3 linked regions of the Homo sapiens genome follow. The protein of the gene in region 2 purifies or fractionates together with the protein of the main gene of each other region. This does not show direct contact. Each region holds a gene or a part of one and is shown on either strand. Other genes may lie near its edges. The genes, in order: PLXDC2, ATG4C and TOR1AIP1.

Region 1 (3,658 bases), on a different chromosome or scaffold from region 2:
GTTCTGTAATATAGAACATTGGATCAATCTTTATCTTTTTGCTGACTTAAGGAGGCTGCTATTGTTGCAATATCCAGAGATTTCAAGTTCTAGCCATTGCGGGGTCTTTGTGGTGTTTTCAATTTCTCCTCTCTCCACCCCTGCCCCCATCTGTGGCCATCTAAGTTAGCAATACAATTTATTTTGGCCATTTAAAATTTTTCTGCCTTTGTTTTATTTCTTCCCAAATATATTTGAAAATGAATGATCTATATAGCTGATTTTCTGACCACATATATAATTGCAATTTTTATTTGCTCTTCAAACTATTACAACATTTTTGTCCTTATAAGGTTTTTTGGGCAGATAATGCGAGGTCTGTGGTGTTACCTTTTATATACTCCTATTACCTTATGTTTGTGAAGCATTTTACATTTTACAGAGCACTTTGATTCATCTCCCTATTTGTTCATTTATTTAACTGTTCAGTTCACTGAAATATTTATTGAACACCTACTGGAACCAAGTGACTGTGCTAGTAACTTGTGATATACAGTAGTGAGAGTCCAGGCATGTAACCGATCATTATAATACAATAACATCCCTAAACCAGACTTTACAAGTAGATAGGATCAACAATACTCTATCAATTTTCAACTCCAATTTTCTATTCTACTTAAAATGGGAACTAGAAACTGTTTGCCTGAAGAATGTGTCTGAAACATAATATATCACTGCATGTCTGTGCTGTAGACCTGTTAATTTTATCTGTGAGAAAAAAAGTTACTCAAAATTCTCCCTGACCTAAGAATACTTTCTAGTTCACTGCAGTCTTACTGACCAGATGCAACAGTTGAAGTTTGATTTCTCGACCCAATATTTCTATTGGGTTTTGAATTATTAATATCACTGTTTTGAGGTATTCAGAAACACCAGTGTATCAAAAAAGCATTTGCACTTTAGGTGTGTGTGGTGGTTATGTCATTTATTAGACCATCCCAGACATAAGACAATCAGGGAAATCAGAAAACTCCAGCCTCAAATGTGTCTATAATTTCCTGTTCTACCATTGTCATATCATAACATGGTATTACTTCTTAAGGTTTTGATTAAGTTGATCTAGCCTCAACTTAAATTGTAATACATCTGCCTAATTATTGTCTGGAATAACTTTTCAACCATCCAATGCCCACTGCTCTCACAATGATTATTGTAGAGAAGTAAAATGGTAATTATTCAAGTAAAGTCACATAATTTCTGGAGTCAGTTTTTCATAACAAGTTTATGGAATACATCATCATTGGCTTCTTCATAATATATTTATTATGAGTGACCAAATTTTGCCTGGAGGAGCAAAATGCTCAAAACTTGTTATTATAGGTTAATTTCCAGCTCACTGTTGACACTGAAAGATTCTGTGTTACTTTAAACCCAGGATAAAAGGCTGGAAAAAAAATTAAATGTAAGTCATAAACTAGTACTCAGCTTTTCCTAGTTTCTAAGGCTTATTAACATTTGCAAATTACTCAATAAATGTCTTTCATAATGGAATAACATAAAAGCTTTTGATTTGGCAGATAGTGATATTTTATTTATTTTCATTCTGGTTGAAAAAAATCTCAGTGGCTTCTCTTCATTCCACGAGAATTTTGATTTTTAACAGCAGTCTCTCTTTTTCTCAGCATTGCAAATATATATGTATATATACATTCATGACCAAAGTATCGCTTACTGACCATGCAGCTGTAAACCTTCTGTGCCTATCAAACAAATACATAGCATGAAACTAATTTTAGAAGTTTCATGGGGGAATTTTAGGGGAAAGTATAAACCTAAGAGTGAGTGAATGGAGATGATTCATGGAAAAAAAAATAAAAATCTAAATGTGCTATTAGGCAGAGTTATTAACTTCTTTTAGTTGTTGTTTGAGATGGGGTTTTGCTCTTGTTACCCAGGCTGGAGTGCAATGGCGTGATCTCGTCTCACTGCAACCTCCGCCTCCCAGGTTCAAGCGATTCTCCTGCCTCAGCCGCCCAAGTAGCTGGGATTACAGGCATATGCCACTACAGCCGGCTAATTTTGTATTTTTAGTAGAGACGGGGTTTCTCCATGCTGGTCAGGCTGGTCCCCAGCTCCCGACCTCAGGTGATCCGCCCACCTCCGCCTCCCAAAGTGCTGGAATTACAGGCCTGAGCCACCGTGCCTGGCCGAGTTATTAACTTCTTAAGAGCAATGTGCTAATAAATACTCATTGATGACCAGCTCAAATTTAGGTCATTCAGACATCCAGACACTGGGGCACATATTCTGCAAGCAATGCTGAGACCCCTGACATAGAGAAAGCAAAGGATATGCCTATGATTAGTCTAAAATGCAGCCATCACCCCCCATACCTCTTCTATGGCATTCATCCTAACATCATGGAGGCCTTTGTCCTAGAGAATTATGTGACTTGCCCTAGAGAATTAGTGAATGACCAAAAAGAGACTTTCCATTTATCTTCCTTTGACTTAAAAGGCATGAAAATAAGGCAAAAAAATCAATAAAATAATTTTCCTGAGGAAAGGTTAAGAGATGGCACTTTCCTTTCCGGGCCCAGAGCTGGATTTCTCTGAGATTTGACCATCTCAGGACTCAGACAGACTCCAGTGCTATTTTCTGGACATTTGTGGTGAAGCCTCAGCCACCATGTTCAAGGTGGTTTGAATGAAAACATACTCAGATTGTCACATTTATAGCAGGGAAATAAAAACTCAAATTAGGCATCCTGCAGCAGGCTACTCTGAAAATAACATTAGGCAACATCAGAGCTTCACTTGCAAAGAAATGTTAAAATCATTTTAGGGAAATCAGTGAAGTCTCTTTAGAAACAGACATCTTGTGTATGGCGTAACCCAGTCTTGGGGCCCTCACGGAGAAGAGGGGGAAGTCTTTTCATTGATTGGTCAAAACAAATCTCTCATTTGCCTGATTTGAAGCATTTCAACAGTGCCTGGAGAGTACATTATTTTCAGGGGAAAAAAAGGAGAGAGTCTTTTTTATATGCCAGCTGGGATCATGGGAACTTCGAATGCCAGGAATTTACTACTGTTTCTGGTAATTCTGTGTGTAGTCATTTGAAATGTTGAAGTGTGAAAAGAGAAGAAATTGGGCACTTCTTGCGGCGGGGGAGGGGGGGGGGGCGGTGGCTTTCCAGATTTTATGCCAGTTGCACCAGCATGCAGAATATTTGTAATGCATTTCAAAGTGGATATAATGGCACCCTTTGTCAGAATCACAAAGCTCACTGCGGCACTGCTACAAGAGGACACTGAGGAAAATCTGGCCCTATGAACCTAGTCAACCCCAAGCAAAAAGAATGACTATGTGTGTGAGTGCAGCACATGGCCAGTTCGTTTCTCACTGTTTTGGAAAGCCCTGTGTGCCAAACCAAGGACGTGTCTTTCAGGGAAAGGTTAATTTTCCGAAGTTTATTAAAATAGAACTTGGAAAACCAAGCATTTTGAATTTATTCCAGTCCTCTGGGCATCATTCCTATTTCTTCTGCCATGTCAAGGAGAAATTCCAAGCCTGCATTCTGTCATGCTAAAATAACCAGCCCATACTTCTCGGTGACCTTCTGTTGAACGTACCTGAGCCTGCAAATGTAAAAATGATTGTATCTGAATCTGCACTAATG
Region 2 (3,658 bases):
CTTAATATTCTCCAGCTGATATAACTGTTCTAGAGTTCTCTATAACTATATATTACAAAGTTTTAAATTATGTCACTTTAGTAGTTTTACAGATAACTGATTTTACAAAGAGTATATTAAAAAGTAATTTAGTAGGAACCTAACTATATTTTACATTCATAACATAATCACACAGAAAAAATAATTCAAATAACTTTGAACACCTATTTTGACTATATATACCTTTAGTGGGATATATTCTAAGAACATAAAATGGCAAAGAAATCTTTACTTGGTAAATCTGTTGCTGGAAGCGGTATCAGTCAGTCTAGTAATTCCAAAACTATTTTATGTGTGTTGTAGGATAGGTTAGATGAGTAAAAATAGTGATATAATTGAGAATCAGAATTCTCTCTTTGGGAAAACAGAGATATAAACAGGAATTGGAAGGAAGTGATGAGAACTCTGCAGTGTTGAATTTGAATTGAAGGTATCCTATGAACTCATGATTTCTTAAAAAATGTATATGTTGGCCGGGTACAGTGGCTCACGCCTGTAATCCCAGCACTTTGGGAGGCCGAGGCGGGTGGATTACCGGAGGTCCGGAGTTCGAGACCAGCCTGACAAACATGGAGAAACTCTGTCTCTACTAAAAATACAAAACTAGCTGGGTGTGGTGGCACATATCTGTGATCCCAGCTACTCGGGAGGCTGAGGCAGGAGAATCGCTTGAACCCAGGAGGCAGAGGTTGCGGTGAGCCAAGATCCGCCATTGCACTCCAGCCTGGGCAACAAGAGCAAGACACTGTCTCAAAAAAAAAAAAAGTGTATATGTGTGTCCATTTAAAGGGTCTAGAACCAATGACACCCCAGTAGCAAAGAGCATATTCAATACCCAGATCTTCATTTCTTTTATTTCTTTTTTTTTGAGACGGAGTCTCGCTCTGTCGCCCAGGCTGGAGTGCAGTGGCGCGAACTCGGATCACTCCAAGCTCCGCCTCCCGGGTTTACGCCATTCTCCTGCCTCAGCCTCCCTAGTAACTGGGACTACAGGCGCCCGCCACCACGCCCGGCTCATTTGTTTTTTTATTTTTTAGTAGAGATGGGGTTTCACCGTGTTAGCCAGGATGGTCCCGATCTCCTGACCTCATGATCCACCCGCCTCGGCCTCCCAAAGTGCTGGGATTACAGGCATGAGCCACCACGCCCGGCCCAGATCTTGGTTTCTAAGAATCATTTTCCACTAAAATAAACCAGGACTCTGTGGTAAAATGGCTGATTCCATGTATTGAGCAGGAAATTTACAAGGTGAGGCTGGAACATCTTATTGTGCAAATAGGAGTAAGAAAGTGCTCAAACACCAATGTGGACATATCCAAAGTTCATGGGAACCAGCTTGAAGGATCTACTACTGACCAGATTTGAGATAATTTCATCACCAAAAGGAATGATGGTAGCAAATTATAACGCACTGCATAGATTTTGAAAAAAAGGATACTTGGGTACATAGTGATACTAAAATAAAAAAGAGAAAGCTCTTATTTAGAGAAGAGAGCCAGCAAATACATGTAGGAATGACAGAAGTGGGAAATCACTATTTGGCAACCACCAATGCTTTTATCAATGGCTACTAAAATCACTGGATAGGAAAACAAAACCTGCAAAACAGAATATCCACATGACCTCAATTTATCACCCCTACAGATTACTAAATACAAAAGGGAAAACATACTTTCGGAATATAAAAATCTGGCTAAACTAAGTGATCAAACTTAATCACCAATAATGGAATAAACGATCATGTTAATCCTAATATGATTAAATGGAAAGTTCAAAACATCACCCATGTAATAGTAAAAAAAAGAAAAAAGAAAAAAAAAGAAAAACCCACAACTCTTCAATCTGAAACTCATTGTGAGGAAAAAATCAGATAAATCAATTTTGTGAGGCATTCTACCTGAAGACAAAAAAAGAAAGAAATGATAAAGACTGTTCTAGATAAAATAGACATATAAGTACTAAATACAATTAATGTCTTTAATTGGATTCGGTATTTTTGTAATGGTATAATGACATTACTGGGATATTTGGAAAAATCTAATTGTTGAATATGGACTGCATATTAGACAATATTATCATATCAAGGTTAAATTATTTGGATATGCTAATGGCATTATAGTTATATAAGAGAATGTGCTAGTTCTTAGGAGATGCATGATGAATTATTTGGGGGTAAAGTGTCACGTTGCCACCTTACTTTCAAATAGTTCAGCAAGAAAAAAAGGTGTGTGTGTGTGTGTGTGTGTGTGTGTGTATTTATAGAGAGAGAAACAGCACTTGTCTAACAGCAAGGAATGAGAGCAAAAGAGGCACTATGTTAACAACTAGTGAATCTAGGTAAAAGGATGTACAGGTATTTGTCATACTACCATTTCAATGTTTTTACAGGTTTGAAAGTAAAAAGAAAAAAATAAGGGAAAAAGTAGAAGTTAGGTTGATTTTAGAGCAGCTGATCAGACTTCATAAAGCCTAACTACTCTTCACCCTATTCAATAAGAGCTAAAAGCAAGTTCAAACTTCGAAAAGGTTTGGCTAAAAATAAAGGTAATAATCCTAACAAACAATAAGTAATCACAAACTAATCACCATAAGTTTTCTATCACAGCTGTAAACTACACATAATCTCAGAACTCTGTGAAAGATGTTATGTGCTGGTGTATCTGGGACAATAGTGAATAAGCAAAACTATTTTATATATTTTCTCCAAATCTAAATACCAAATAAATTTTTTTTCTCAAATTGAGTTTTATTAGTTACAAGGTATCCTAAAATTAAAATGGTGTCACAGGAGTCAAGATGATCTTGAACCCAGTATCACTATTATAATAATGATAATAAACACTTAAAATCTGTACCAAGTATTTTATTAACCTATGTATATATATCATTTCATTTAATTCTCACAACAATTCTATAAGGCTGGCACTATTATTATCCTCATCTTATAAATTTAAAAAAAAAAAGGCTTGGAAAAGCTGTATAACTTCTTCAAGGTCATACTGCTAGTATACAGCAAATAGAGACCATGAATCCAGGCAGTCTGACACCAAAGTCTCTTTGCTCTATACACTCTACCACTTTACTAAGAAATGTAAAATTTAAACAATAAACTATAAATCACTACTGTTTGGGTTCAATATCTATCAAAAATTACATGAATGAAGCATTTCAGAGAAAAATCACAAGTATGTATTTTTCCCTAATGCATGTATATTTATGTATGTACCAAATGAATGAAGTTAGAATTTAACCAGATGCCAGTTTACTACCAAATCTCAAGTGAAAATAAAGATGGCATGTAACTGCATTATTCAGTTACCTATTCATATACATGGTTTAATATATTACAGATAGATTCAAAACAGAGACCAACATATTTCCAGATGCTTTCATGTAGAACCCCACCCCTGCTCAATCAAGAAAAAATGATACCAAAAAAACCTATTTTAGGCATAGTATTACTCAAATATACAAAACTACAACAATGACACAAAAGGGTAAAAATAACTAAGAAATTAACCTTAAACACTGCTACCACAACAAAAAATACTAATAAACAAAGCATGTTTCCCAAACCTGGTCCTCTTTCGATGTTCTCTACCTCGGTGAAGGGTGCAAC
Region 3 (3,658 bases), about 120 Mb from region 2:
ATTTTAATAGGATCGGCTTCTCCGCTATCCCTATGCCATTGAACTATAGATGGTCTAAAATAAACCCTGGCCCACATTAATGTTTTTATTTAAAATTAATTTGCATTTCTTCAACACAAGGTTAAATAGAATGAGCGTATTGAATCTCAGGATGTTAACCCTAAAATTAAAATATTCCATAAATAATCCACAATGAGGGTCAGTCACAAATGGAATAGATAATTGAGTTGGTACCATAATACAGATTTTGGTTCTTAATTGAGCAATTTAGAAGAATTTTATTTAGTATTTCTTTCCTTCCTACAGCTACGGTTTGCTGAGAAAAAATGCAAATTTCTCCATCAAGACTATAAATTTTATATGGCAGGAAACTTGTCTCTAGTTCACTATCATCACTAGTTCGCAACAGTTGTCACTTAGAAAGCTTGTCTCTACTTCTCTAGCGTAAATAAAAGCTCTGTAAACCTTTGTTGAATAAATAAGGGATGATCATGTAATAAAGCTAGTATGTTTCACATTTTATATATTTTTAAATGTTTTCTCTTCCTATATTAGCAGTGAGTGAAGATCTTGTAATCAGGTTACGTCGACCCCCTCTAAGATACCCAAGATATGGTAAGAGATTGTTTGTCTGTTGGTTTACCTTTGTTATAAATACAGTTTTATTTTTAAATATGGTTGTACATGTATTCATATGATTCAGAACTTAAAAGTTACTGTAAATATACATTAAAAAATCTCCCTGTCCCCTCTGTCATTCAGCCAGCCAGTCTCTCTTCATCAAAAGCAACCAATGTTGTCAGTTTATATTTTTTGGAGATTTACAGAAATTCATGGATGAAATTATCTTGTCCTTTTTATAATACAAATTTTGGCTTTATAAACTCTCATTTCTGTCTTTTTTTTTTTTTTTAATTTGAGACAAGATCTCGCTCTGTCATCCAGGCTGGAGTGCAGTGGCACAACCAGGGCTGACTGCAGTCTCAATCTCTCTGGCTCAAGCAGTCCTCCTGCCTTAGCCTGCCAAGTAGCTGAGACTATGCATCCACCACCACGCCTGGCTGATTTTTGTATCTTTTGTAGAGATGGGGTTTTGCCATGTTACCCACATGATCTCAAACGCCTGGGTAAGTGATCCACCCACCTCAGCCTCCCAGAGTGCTGGGATTACAGGCATGAGCCACGGCACCTGGCTTACTTTTCTGCACTTTCTTGTTTATTTTTACTTAACATATATACAGAGATATTTCTATATTCATATATAAAAAGCTTCCTTTTTTAAAGAGATTGTTTCTTATATATTCCTGTGATTCTTTATGATGATTTTAAACTATGGTCAGGGACTTTATTCTTCCAGTATACTGCTAACAAAAAATTCAAGCTGGAGCTCTGTGGCACAGAACGACAAAATGTCCCTCCCTCAGTTATCTTTTTGACTAAAACGATTAAAAGTATTGCCCTGAAATTGATTTCATGACTATGAAGAAAACTAGTAAAGACACTCCAAGCAGTCTACTTTTACTTCATTTTCCTTGTTTTTTTGGCTCTTAAAGATGCTTTATCATGGGAACTAAAAAGGAAATGTATTTATCTTTATATTAGGCTTCTGTACCTTCCCATTCTCTTTATCAAAGAATGATGTTGATTTATTTCGATAGATAGTTGACTATCCTTTTAAGTATTCCAGTGGTAAAGATCTACTAAGGTTTTGTTAATGAACCTGTGGTAAAGAACCATATGATGCATTTCCTTTTCAACCCTAATCATTCTCTTGCTATGTCTCTTGCAGATTCGACATACAAAACAAATAGAAATACTAAAATGAGTGAATTATGTTCGTTTATTTCTATTCTTTTTTTTTTCCAGGCAGGGTCTCACTCTCACCCAGGCTGGAGTGCGGTGGCGTGATCTTGGCTCACTGCAGCCTCCTCCTCCTATTGTAGTCCCAGCTACTCTGGAGGCTCAACTGAGCCTCCTACTTCAGCCTCTGGAGTAGCTGGAACTACAGTCATGCATCACCATGCCTGGCTGATTCCTGTGTTTTTTATAGAGATGGGGTTTCACCATGTTGCCCAGGCTAGTCTCGAATTCCTGGGCTCTAGCAATCCACCCGCTTTGGCCTCCCAAAGTGCTGGGATTATTGGCATGCACAACTGCGCCCAACCCTATCTCTAATTCTTACAAGGTCTCTTTGAGGGTCCAGATTAATAGAATACAAGAGTATATATATCTAGTCATTGGCTTGAGAATACTAATTTATTATGTCAGTTTGTGGGGACCCAGTCCCTATGACTAGGACCTCCCATAAACAGCCTTGGTTTTTGTTGTCTATAATTATGCCTATATTATTGCTTAAATTCATATAAAAACATGTAATCAATTTAGTCCTGCTAGTCTTCATTAAATTCACACTATTAGGAAAAAGGAGATAACAACTTACCAATTAAGGTTTTTCTCTTGATTTATTTTTTGTTTTTGTTTTTCTGAGACAGAGCCTTGCTCTGTCACCCAGGCTGTAGTACCGTGGTGCGATCTCGGCTCACTGCAACGTCTGCCTCCCAGGTTCAAGCAATTCTCCTGCCTCAGCCTCCCAAGTAGCTGGGATTACAGGTGCCCACCACCACGCCCAGCTACTTGTTTTGTATTTTTAGTAGAGACAGGGTTTCACCATGTTGGCCAGGCTGGTTTCAAACTCCCTGACCTTGTGATCTACCCCACTTGGCCTCCCAAAGTGCTGGGATTACAGGCATGAGCCACCACGCCCGGCCTTTCTCCTTGATTTTTATTTTTATTTTTTATTTTTATTTATTTATTTATTTTTATTTTCTCGAGACAGGCTCTTGCTCTATCACCGAGGCTGGAGTGCAATGGCGTGATCTTGGCCCACTGCAACTTCTGCCTCCCTGGTTCAAGTGATTCTCCTGCCTCAGCCTTTCAAGCAGCTGGGATTACAGATGACCACCATGACACCCAGCTAATTTTTGTATATTTAGTAGAGATGGGGTTTCACCATGTTGGTCAGGCTGGTCTCGAACTCCTGACCTCAAGCAATCCACCTGCCTCGGCCTCCCAGAGTTTTGGGATTGTAGGCGTGAGCCACCACACCTGGCCCTTTCTTCATTTAGAAAGTGAATTCGATACGTTGTTCACGGCGAGTTCAGTGTCCTTTGCTGTAATACGTTCGTTGAACGGGTTTTAATTCATTTCAGTGTCTGCCTGGCTATAGGACATGACATACCATGATTTGTGGTTTTAAATGAATCTACATTGAATGTTGTTAGACTTAGTTTTTTTTACATTTTAATTATTTTCTAAATTTGAAGATGAGCCAAAAGGGAAACGCTTCATTTTTCTTTATAAATCATTGTACCTTCCTCTAATTCATCTTTCACTTAAGTTCAGGCCACTTCTTTAGAGACTTAAAAAAGCTTTTTAGGCTGGGTGTGGTGGCTCACGCCTATAATCCCAGCACTTTGGGAGGCTGAGGTGGGCAGATCACCTGAGGTCAGGAGTTCAAGACCAGCCTGGCTGGCATGGCAAAACCCCGTCTCTACTAAAAGTACAAAATTAGCCAGGCGTGGTGGTGCTGTGCACTGTAACCCCAGCTGCTTGAGAGTCTGAGGCAGGAGAATCACTTATACCCAGGATGCAGAGGTTG

Evidence for each region.
Region 1: the proteins of ATG4C (region 2) and PLXDC2 purify together in Homo sapiens (affinity purification with mass spectrometry; one large-scale study listed by BioGRID and IntAct). This does not show direct contact.
Region 3: the proteins of ATG4C (region 2) and TOR1AIP1 purify together in Homo sapiens (affinity purification with mass spectrometry; one large-scale study listed by BioGRID and IntAct). This does not show direct contact.

Annotation. Positions count from the first base shown.
Region 1 is NC_000010.11:20,284,836-20,288,493, forward strand, and holds part of PLXDC2 (plexin domain-containing protein 2 isoform 1 precursor), read left to right. Parts: 3' UTR 1-3,658. UniProt on the Homo sapiens protein: May play a role in tumor angiogenesis.
Region 2 is NC_000001.11:62,787,066-62,790,723, reverse strand, and holds part of ATG4C (cysteine protease ATG4C), read right to left. Parts: intron 1-3,658. UniProt on the Homo sapiens protein: Cysteine protease that plays a key role in autophagy by mediating both proteolytic activation and delipidation of ATG8 family proteins.
Region 3 is NC_000001.11:179,888,755-179,892,412, forward strand, and holds part of TOR1AIP1 (torsin-1A-interacting protein 1), read left to right. Parts: intron 1-555; coding exon of another isoform or gene 556-558; coding exon 559-615; intron 616-3,658. UniProt on the Homo sapiens protein: Required for nuclear membrane integrity. Induces TOR1A and TOR1B ATPase activity and is required for their location on the nuclear membrane. Binds to A- and B-type lamins. Possible role in membrane attachment and assembly of the nuclear lamina.